Linked DNA regions of Homo sapiens: region 2 is linked to region 1. Evidence: fine-mapped expression QTL. A gene starts in region 1. The other region holds a variant in brackets. All regions are shown on one strand. Distances are between the middles of the regions. Region 1 holds the start of LYRM2 (LYR motif containing 2). Region 2 overlaps MDN1 (midasin AAA ATPase 1).

Region 1 (5,199 bases):
CTGGTAAGTGCTTCAATGTGCTCATTAAGCTTCTCTTTCTCTTCCCTTTTCAACAAAGATCTAGATTCCCAGTGGTGATCTTTTTGATGAGTTCTCTATCAAACTATGACACATCTGAAGAACGTACCTGAACAACCCTCAGGGATAATGCAGGATTTTTCGAGAAAGTTCCAGGGTATCTCCTGGTGTCAGTATACTTTCAGTCCTACACCTCAAGAGTTTTTTAATAACAGCTTTATTGAGATACAATTCATACCTTACATTTAAAATGTACAGTTCAGTGGATTTGAATATATTCAAGAGTTGTGCAGCCTACACCACAAGCTAACTGTAGGATATTTTCATCACCCTGAAAAGGAACCCTACACCCATTAGCAGTTACTCCATTCCATCTACAGCCAGCCTAGGCAACCACTAATCTTTCTGCCTATTCTGGACATTTCGTATGAATGGAATCATCATGTGATCTTTTGTGACCGGCTTCTTTCACTTAACGTTTTCAAGGTTTATCCATGTTTAGTATATATAAGTCCTTCGTTTCTTTTTAGTGCCAAATAATGGCTATGGGCATGGGGTAGAAGTGCTAACTCATACAGCAGCTGTTTCATCTTTTGAGGAACTGACCGTCTGTTTTCTGAAGTGGCTACACCATTTTACATTCCCACCAGCAATGTATGAGGGTTCTGTAATTTCTGTACATCTTCACCAAGACTTATTATTATTTCTCTTTTTAATTACAGCCATTCTAGTGAATGTGAATCTCAGGGTTGTTTTTTTTTTTTTTTTTTAGAGACTGTCTCACTCTGTCACCCAGGCTGAAGTGCAGTGGCACGACCTCAGCTCACTGCAACCTCCACTTCCTGGGTTCAAGTGATTCTCCTGCCTCAGCCTCCCAAGTAGCTGGGACTACAGGCAATGCACCACCACACCAAGCTAATTTTTGTATTTTTAGTAGAGATGAGGTTTCACCATGCTGGCCAGGCTGGTCTTGAACTCCTGACCTCAAGTGATCCACCTACCACAGCCTCCTAAAGTACTGGGATTACAAGCATGAGCCACTACACCCGACCTCATAGTAGTTTTGATTTACACTTCCCTAATGATTGTGTCCAGCATCTACTGGCCATTTGTTAGTGGTTTTTTTCTTCTTTTAAGAACTGCTGAGACATCCATAAACATTTTCAAAATGCAGGGTATGTTTTTCAGTGTTAAGGCAACTGTTCTGATGTGTTTTTCCTTTGCTCTCTATCACCAAATACTGTACATATAAATAGTAAGACTGGGCTTTGTGTTGTCCATTGTTAATCCTAAATGCAACAAAACACATGGAGACTTTGAAAATCCTTCAGAATAATGCTATAGTTAAGATTTTGCTAAAGCAAGTGTTTTTTCTAACTCCTTGAGCTGCATATTGCCTTGAGTAATCATCATCCGGATTGTATCCTGTAGAATAAAGTGAAATCTGGTTATAGTTTTACCTGGTTAAACAAGGTATAGCTATACCATTTTATCTGTTAAAATCAAGAACCAATACTACCTATTGGAACTGCTGCCTTTTAGAAAAGCTAAAAGAGTTCCACATACATACATATAAAATGTACAACATAAAAGTCAAGTGATGATGCTGAAGAGTGTAGATACTCTTTTATCTACATATTTTAAAATACTAAATTTTAAAATAATAATTTAAAATCGGTAACATTACAAGCAATGATCAAGATATACCAGCTCAGTGGCACTATATTCCAAGATGTCTGCTAAACTTAAAAAAAAAAATTCACTGATCAATAAAAAGGGTTAGGATCTGTCCTCACCATGATTTTGTTCTCACCTCTTCGGTGGCACTTTTGTTTCTTCTGAATTCTTCTCTTGCCCAATCTTTCAGGTATTTGCGATCAGAATCATTTGGAACTTGCCGAATTGTTTGCAAAATCCTTCTGTAGAGGAGAAGAACTTGTTGCCTTCTTACGAACTGTAAAAGGGAGGAGTAAATAGCAATTACTACTGCACAATCGCCAGCCTGGAAAGTTCTACTTCAGCAAACCAAGCTGTAACCAGAGTACTTCTCGTTGGTCAATTTTGAAAAAGGCAAAGAAAAACTTTTTTTTTTCTTTTTTTGGCCAGATGCAGTGGCTCAGGCCTGTAATCCCAGCACTTTGGGAGGCCAAGATGGGAGGATCACTTGAGCCCAGGAGGTCTAAGCTGAGGTAAGCCTTCATTGCGCTACTGCACTCAGCCTGGGCGAGAGTGAGGCCCTGTCTCAAAAAGATGTTTTAAAGAAAGCATCACGAGGTTCATCTGATCTTTTTGCTTACTGCTCTGTCAAACCTAAGAACCATTAAAAAATCAGGAGCTGCCTACCGGGCTGAAAAGGGCTGCCGGTCTCCTAGAAGTTGTTATTACAACGACAGCACTTTTTCTAAATTAACAGTTGTTCAAATCTTTGGTAATCTCATTTGCTGTTTGCCACAGCTCAGTGCAATAGACTTTTACCGTGGGCACTGGGCAGCTGAGGCACCGGGACTCAGGGAAATCAAGCGCCTGACGCTGTCTCACGCGATCGCACCAAACCAAGGAAGCAGCCAGTGCCTCCCGTCAGGCCCCGCGGAGCGAAGCACCGCCCCGCAGGCATCGGGCCAATCTCAGAGGGCGCGCACGCCGCATCAGGACCCCGGAACCCGCCCCGTTGGGGATAGGGACAGATGGAGAATCCAGCTCAGACCCAGGTAAGCTGCTTTGGAAGGCAGAGAACCGCCGGTACCTGCTTTAACGTTAGCGTCGCTGGGGGTAAGCGGGAAGCAGCCATGTCCACCAGAGGTCCGCCGGAGCCTCAGCGCGCAGGAGCGGAAGTGGGGTTCGACCAAGGGGTGTGGCGAGCCCGGTTTCCTAGGAGACGGCCCGCGGGTTGCTCTCGGACTGAGAGCGCGAGGCTTCGGGACTGAGCCCTAGCTGCTGCGCTGGCCGAAGTTTTCTCGTCGGTAAAATAGGATAACAGTGCACCATAGGGTCGTTTTGATAAAGAAGAAAGGTAGGGCACTTAACACAGTTCCTGGTAAAGAGAGTTCAAATGAAAGTGAAGGAGGCCGGGCGCGGTGGCTCTCACCTGCAGTCCCAAGCACTCTGGGAGGCCTGTAAGGTGCCTGTAATCCCAGCTCCTCGGGATGCTGAGGCAGGAGAATCGCTTGAACCCGAGAAGTGAAGGTTGCAGTGATCCGAGATCGCACCACTGCACTCCATCCTGGGCGACAGAGCGAGACCCTGTCTCGAAAAAAAAGTTAAGGTTTTTTTGGGGGAAAGAGGTGAAAACGTATTTAAATGTTCTTTCGAGCCTTTAAAAATGTGTATAGTTGAAAATACTAAAATTGAAAGTGTTAATTTCTTTTACAGTTTGTGTTGGTTTTTTCTCTTTCTCGTTTTTGTCCTGTTCTTTTGTAGCGCAAAGGTTTTCCGGGAGCGGTGGCCTTCATGATCATTTGAAACAAAGCTTTGAATGGCTCACCCACTTCAGTCTTAAGCACTTTTCATCACTAATAACGAGGAGCCTAACATCCCTAAGCCTCAGGCTTTTGCTTTTATTTCCTTATAGTTGTTTTATCTTTCCCACAATACACATGCCTTTGGGTTAAATCACTAGAAGTGGAGTTAGCGAATCTTTGCCATATTAATTTTCCAAGTGGTGTTGTATCGAATTAAAATAGAACGAAAAATGTTCAATTACTAGTTTACTGGGGACTTGCTTGCCTCGCCTGTTAGCATCCTGGGGCTCCCTATTCCTAGCTGTGTTCTGGCTATTTCCCCTCTCCTGGCCTATTACCTCCCCTGTAAAGTGAAATATAGCATCTACCTCAGTTGTGTATCTCTAATGTACTGAGAACAGGTCCTGGCACATGTAAGAACTCTAATCATTAGCTCTTTTGAACTTTACCAGGCATTGTATGAATGATGCTAACTGCATGATCATATTATCAATAATATATGCCAAATTTTGTCTAATACATTAGCTGTAATAGTTAATTGCTAACTTTTTAAAAGGAGTGAAGTTAAATACCCCTCGCCATTTTTAGTTATACTGTTTTTGTGAATTGTTCATGACTTGGGTCCGTTTATGATGAGGACATTTATATGGGCTCTATATTTTTTGTCATTTCTTTATACATACAGAAACTTTATACAATCATGTATTTTTGTGCCTTTTGAGGCTTTTCATTTCCCATTCAGGCCTTTGTAATTCGTTTTTTAAAAACTTTAATTTTTAAAATATTTACTCCATCTAGAATTTACTTTGGTTTACAGCATCACGTGGATCTAAGTTCTTTTCTAGATGTTAAGCTGTATCAATACCATTGATTACATAACTCATTCCTTTTTCGGGGCTTTATGATGGATGCCTTTTTGACTGTATGATAAATTCTTTTAGGGTCTGAGTAATCTGTCCAGAATTGTTTCATTTAGGGTTAAGTTTTTACTTTTTGTTTTATATGTTTTTATTATCTGGCAGGACTCTAGTTTCTTGTAAAAAATCCATTAGTACTGTTCTCTATAATCTTTAGAAATGTTTTGTATCATTTCCCTCCAAATCATCTTGTGATCTTGGTTGGAATTTTGAAGTAGTGTTGAATCTATACATTAATATGTGAGAAAGACATTTTTACATTATTTCTTCTTCCCATCAAGAAACACTCAGGCCAGGTGCGGTGGCTCATGCCTATAATCCCAACACTTTGGGATACCGAGGTGGATCACCTGAGGTCAGGAGTTCGAGACCAGCCTGGCCAACATGGTGAAACCTCGTCTCTACTAAAATACAAAAAATTAGCCGGGCCTGGTGGCGCACGCCTGTGGTCCCAGCTACTTGGGAGGCTCAGGCAGGAGAATCGCTTGAACCTGGGAGACGGAGGTTGCAGTGAGCCGAGATTGCGCCATTGCACTCCAGCCTGGGCAACAAGAGCAAAGCTCTATTTAAAAAAAAAAAAAAAAAAAAAAAAGGGCTCACTCTTGCTAGACACTGGTAATGCTGTCGTGAGTCACATATGCTCCTTGCTCAAAGACTCATGCTTTGGGCAGGAAAACCTCTAAGTTCAATATAGTGCTAACAAAGAATGCTGCAGTTCATACTGTGGGAAATTATTCTTCCTGGAGGGCTTGTCTGAGCTAGGTATTTGTCAGAAACGCAGAATCACTAAGAGGATTCCAGACAAC
Region 2 (5,535 bases), 32 kb after region 1:
GTAGATCACAGATTAAAAATTATTAACCTAGTAAAAACCATTTTTATGTGTAACTTACATGTTGAAAAGAAAGAGAGTGATCTTCTGTCAACTGTATACCTATGTGAAAACGTACCTGTTCTTCATTTCCGATCTGGTCACTCACATCCTTCATGCCCTCGCCTTCTCCAATTCCACCTCCCTCATAGTCATGGAACTCAGTTGCTCCCTCTCCAGCTGAATCTTCCATAAATTCTTTGGGCAAGCAAAATCCCTTAGAAAAAAGAAAAAGGAAGTGAACAATTAGGCACAAAAGCAATTTTAAAAGGAGATTTCATTCTTGCCACAGGAAAACAATTTAAACACATACTGAATTCTTTTTCTAGCTCATTATCTTAAATCCGCTGGAAGTACAGGAGACTTCTGACATTCTTCTCCTCTTTGGTGCTAATAGTTATGCAGTTTCACAGCTTGACATCAGATTTAACATATGACTTGACTTTGTAGAAGCCTCTGGCATGTGGTCATTTGTCACTTTGCCAAGACAAAAACCTAAATGAAGTATACTAGAAGGACAGTATTTTGGAAAAAGTCCTTGAGTAAGGGCAGAACAGGCTCTGGAGAGAACACAGTCAGACATAGTAATAACTGTGAAATGTTGAAAAAAACTATTTTATACAGGAAAATAACCTGAGAAGAATACTAGCCTGCTGAGCAGAAGTAAAAAGAAAAAGTAGTAGTGACTCTCAATCAGAAAGTTTAATTTTGTAAGAGAAAATATATACTATGAAGATATATCTGAGGATGGGAATGCACAAAAAAATAAGCTGCTAATTAGCAAGGAATTAAGATCCCAAACCAGTAAACACTAATTATGACTTGGTTACACAGAAACAGCTTCCTGCGGATCAAGAGCTTTAATTACAGCCTAGATCTATTATCTTAGCACTGTCTAACCTACTCTCAAGTTCCCTTGAACTACTCAGAAAAGATATGAATACAATTTGGACACTTAGAAAAATTTTTAACAAGCCAAACCCACTTTTAGGACATATATTCTCAGAATGTTGATAGGAAAATACAGTTTGGCTTACTTGCTTAATTTTCCCATTGAACTACATTATTTAAATGAGAGACATTCAGAAATAGACAAAGAATACGACCACATAGGAGGGAGTTTCAGATGCCCTTACCAGAGTATATCATTGCAGCTGCTACGTCTGGGATAGCCACAGGGCTCCCAACATTCTGCACATATCAGAACCATTCCTACCCGCAACAGACAAAGGTTTGAAAGGCCAAAGTCATTCTACAGCCTGTCAGACAAAAGCTACGGTACAAATGGACAAATCCAGCTGAGCCAAATCTCAAGGCACCCGAACCACACATTTTCCTGCCACTATCTTTAGTATACAGTGTTTTCTCCAAGAAGCAATGGAATGTTAAGGCTGGCCTGGTGCCCACCAGAGGCGGAGAAACCTGAGACTCATTCTTTTACTTATTATTACTTTTTATTATTATTATTATTACTGTTACTTATCATTACTACAGATAAACATATTTATCCTCTTGATACAAGGCATTAGGCTTGGCTTCCACTTTTTACCTCTTTCCAGTATTTCAGAGACTCGGAACTAAGAACTCTTAATTGTTTATAAGAAATCTAGACCCCATCTTCAGTTTGTAAATTCATATCTTCCTCAAGTACATCTCATCTGTATTAAGCTTGGAGAAAATCTTAGAATGCTAAGAACAAAAACAAAACTTATATACTCAAATGCAGGTGGTTCTCACAAAAATGCATATTAGTATAGGCAGATCTCATTTTACAAATGAGGAAACTGAGGCTTGGTGAGGTTAAGAGAGACCGAGAGCTGGATATCTCTATGACTAGACCTACCCACACCATGTTGCTGTTAGATTTCACTGTCTACTGCCCCTGAGTTTCAAGGGGAGGGTCTACAATCTCTACAACCTCAGTGCTTTTCACAATACCGGGTACATGGCTGAATGAACAAATGACTTCCCTGCTAAAGAAAAAAACTGGCTGGGCGCAGTGGCTTACACATGTAATCCCAGCACTTTGGGAGGCCGAGGTGGACAGATCACAAGGTCAGGAGATCGAGACCGTCCTGGCCAATGTGGTGAAACCCTGTCTCTACT[A/G]AAAATACAAAAATTAGCCAGGCGTGGTGGCACGTGCCTGTAATCACGTGGAGATTACAATTACAATTACAATTTTGGAGACTCTGTCTCCAAAAAAACATATATATATATATATATATATATATATATATTTTTTTTTTTTTTTTTTTTGAGATGCAGTTTTGCTCTTGTTGCCCAGGCTGGAGTGCAATGGCATGATTTTGGCTCACTGCAACCTCCGCCTCCCCGGGTTCAAACAATTCTCCTGTCTCAGCCTCTTGAGTAGCTGGGATTACAGGCACATGCCACCACGCCCAGCTAATTTTTGTATTTTTAGTAGAGATGGGGTTTCATCATAATATTGGTCAGGCTGGTCTCAAATTCCTGACCTCAGGTGATCCACCCGCCTCAGCCTCCCAAACTGCTGGGATTACAGGCGTGAGCCACCACAACAGGCGAAAAACACTCTAATAATAACAGGCCCATTATCATTTAATCATAATTACACCAACATGGTTAAAAGAAAACTTAATAGCCTTAAGGGTTTATCCTACAACTCTAGTTCAAGAGTTATCTGAAGATTTACATTGGGGATGGGAAGGGAAGGGTGTTAACAGACGGCAGCAGCTTTTAGACAGCGCTGGAGTTTAGGGAACTCGTCAGTTTGGGGGAAAGGGTGGGTTGGGGATAGGAGGTATCATCTGCAGGTTCTGAGACTTTAGTGGAAACAGCGTTAGCAAAAGGATGCCAGACAAAGCCCTAAATAATCCACAGGGAGAGCAAATCACATCCTGCTATTTGTGGTGGTCCAAAATAAAAGCCTATCACACCAAAGACTAATGACATGAAATTTACTTGGGTCCCTGCTGCTCACAGTGCACCATGTGAACAGTCCTTACCTTCTGGGCAAGCTCTGTAAAGACCTGGGCAAGCACAGAGAGCAGCTTTGCAGTACTACGGTGAGTTGCTAAAGACATGGTCAGGAAGAAGAGGACGAGGTCTGAGTAGCTGGAGAGGACCGGCACCAGGCGCACCAGCAAGGAACAGGATTGGCTGAAGAACTGAGACCAAAACAAAACAAAAGGCCTGCTCACACTGCTTGGCAGGTACCAGGTTTCCATTCTGGAACTAGATAGTGGTGGTAATTGCACAACATTGTGAATGTACTAAATAGTACTAATGGCAAGTTACATGTATGTGTTTGTAACCTCCACCCACCCCAATACACACAGCTCACTGAGATTTCTTCATTTACATATATCGTCACAAAAGTACAATCTCAAACCGATGTCTCCTTTGGCTAACAATGTTGGTTTTTTAAAAATAGAATGTTGGCCAGGCACAGTGGCTCACGCCTTTAATCCCAGCACTTTGGGAGGCCAAAGTGGGTAGACTGCTTGAGCCCAGGAGTTCAAGTTCATGTTGCCTGGGCAACATGGCAAAACCCCATTTCTACAAAAAATACCAAACAAAAAAAACATATAGCCAGAACCCATCTTTACAAAACTTTAAAAATTAGCTGGGCATGGTGGTGCATGCCTATACTGCCAGCTATCTGGGAGGCTGAGGTGTGAGGATCACCTGAGCCCAGGAGGTCAAGGCTACAGTGAGCCATGGTCATGCCACCACACTCTCCAGCCTCGACAACAGAATGAGACCGTGTCCCAAAATAAAATAAGAAAAATAAAATGTTTATAAATAAATTCTGCTGATTCAAAGTTAGCACCGGAGGCAATGCTACAGAATAACATACAATGTCCTGCAAAGTAAGTTGCTTCTCTGGACTTACTGTAAAGACTACAACTGCTTACTCTGTTCGCTTATTGTAGTGGGAATGGTGGTTACACAGGATGGCTGCTAAGCCTCAGTTGATAACATCGTCTATCAGTAACATCAGATACTTGGGAGTATGTGAATAAGATATGAAAGAATCCTAATATAATGGATATTCTGAATGGTTAGCATTTCTGCACCTATGCATCTAACAATTAGCTAGCAAGCCCTAAGCTCTTCAAAGCTTGTCAATGACTTTGCACGTATAAATAAAGAGACCAAGTTCTTAGTGATTTTGGCACTGAGGCCTGCTCTGGCACTTATCTACGTGGAGGGAAGTAAAGCCCACTCTGCCTTTGCTCAGTGCATTCTGAAGAGGAAGAAGTTTGTAAAGAACAGTTAGTTACCAGGTGCTTTGCTGCTGTGCCATCCTCACCGTACGATTTCAGCCTCTCCAACAGCTCGGAGATGGCAGAAATTATTTTCTGCACGTGCAAAGTGCTCACATCGGCCCAGAAGTCATCCTCTAAGAGTTTTGTTAGATGTCCTGATTGCAGTCTCTCAAAGCCTGCTGCCTCATTCATTCAGAGAAAATAACAACATGATGAATAACAGAAAACAAATCCTTTTATCTCTATCCATGCAGTTATCTGTTTCTAACATCCATCCTTAACTATTTAGCCACAGAAATAAATCATCAAATACAAAAATTAAATCAGGCATGAAACTAATTTCTGCCTGATTTCAGACATACCATAATCTTCTTGTGGGCTTGCTTGGTCAGTGTTCTCCTCTGCTTTTTCATTCTTTCTTTCTTCTAAGTTCTGGATGGCACAGAGGATGGCTCGGATGGCAATTTCCATTTGCTCTGAAAAATCTTCCACAAATCCTTCGTCCAACATTTGATTTCCTAGCAGGTAACATGGTGCAAAACAAACATACAAACAAAAGACACCAATCATTTGCTTTAGTGCCTCTGGAAATCATTAAAAATACTCATTTATTGATGAGCCACTGTGTCAAGCTGTGCCAGATACAAAGAAGAGACAAATTCCTTGCCTCGATAAACCTACAAGTTTATTACCTTGTATTAAAACATTTTTACTAAAATAATGTAAAAAATATAAAAATAACAGTTAAGACAGTATGAATAAACACTAACTTAGTCCAAATATCAGTGCCAAGCTTTTTCAATCTAAGGGAAAACAGACAGTGAGCTGATGCTGCCTTCCTATGTGTGTTACAAAGTATGTAACAGGCATCCAAACAAATGGGGCAAAAAAGTTAAGAGCTGTGGATTTCAACCGCACCTCCCTGCCTCAGAACCCTGGACAGGTACATGTAGACCAAAATATAATGTGTCTTTTGGACAATGAGACTTACATCTATAAGACATCATTTCTACACTGGACTTTCATTCCCTGACTGAACAATATTCCTTACCTCCTTGGCTATCTGAAGTAAGCAGATGGGTCTTCCAGGTAGTAAAGTCAGCCATGGCTTTACTAATTTCTCCTCTTACATATTCCAGACTTTCAACTAGTGCCATTTGTGAGTCTCTTTGCTCAACCTCCATCCCTGGAAGAATGAACAAGGACTCTAGGCCCTGCAAATGAACTGACACCTGGGACAAGCAACTCA

What was found. PIP is the estimated chance that this variant, and not a neighbour inherited with it, causes the effect. A credible set is the group of variants that fine-mapping cannot tell apart.
Region 2: its variant is the best candidate, but not a certain one, in a credible set for the expression of LYRM2 in tibial nerve (GTEx, PIP 0.52).

The regions. Positions count from the first base shown.
Region 1 is chr6:89,635,911-89,641,109 of GRCh38, forward strand. LYRM2 (LYR motif containing 2) reads right to left here and starts at 2,837. Exons shown (of 3, transcript NM_020466.5): 1 at 2,762-2,837; 2 at 1,832-1,972; 3 at 1-1,443. The coding sequence starts at 2,806. The coding sequence ends at 1,363. It overlaps MDN1-AS1 (MDN1 antisense RNA 1), which reads left to right and starts at 2,622. Exons shown (of 4, transcript NR_111915.1): 1 at 2,622-2,726. RefSeq lists enhancers at 1,585-2,784, 2,137-2,366, 2,587-2,636.
Region 2 is chr6:89,667,899-89,673,433 of GRCh38, forward strand. It overlaps MDN1 (midasin AAA ATPase 1), which reads right to left. Exons shown (of 102, transcript NM_014611.3): 80 at 5,338-5,535; 81 at 4,649-4,804; 82 at 4,302-4,465; 83 at 3,021-3,182; 84 at 116-253. All of the region lies in intron 1 of MDN1-AS1 (MDN1 antisense RNA 1), which reads left to right. Among named protein-coding and RNA genes, the nearest start is that of LYRM2, 32 kb to the left of the region's middle. RefSeq lists a silencer at 312-606. The variant A/G (reference allele first, on the strand shown) is at 2,143.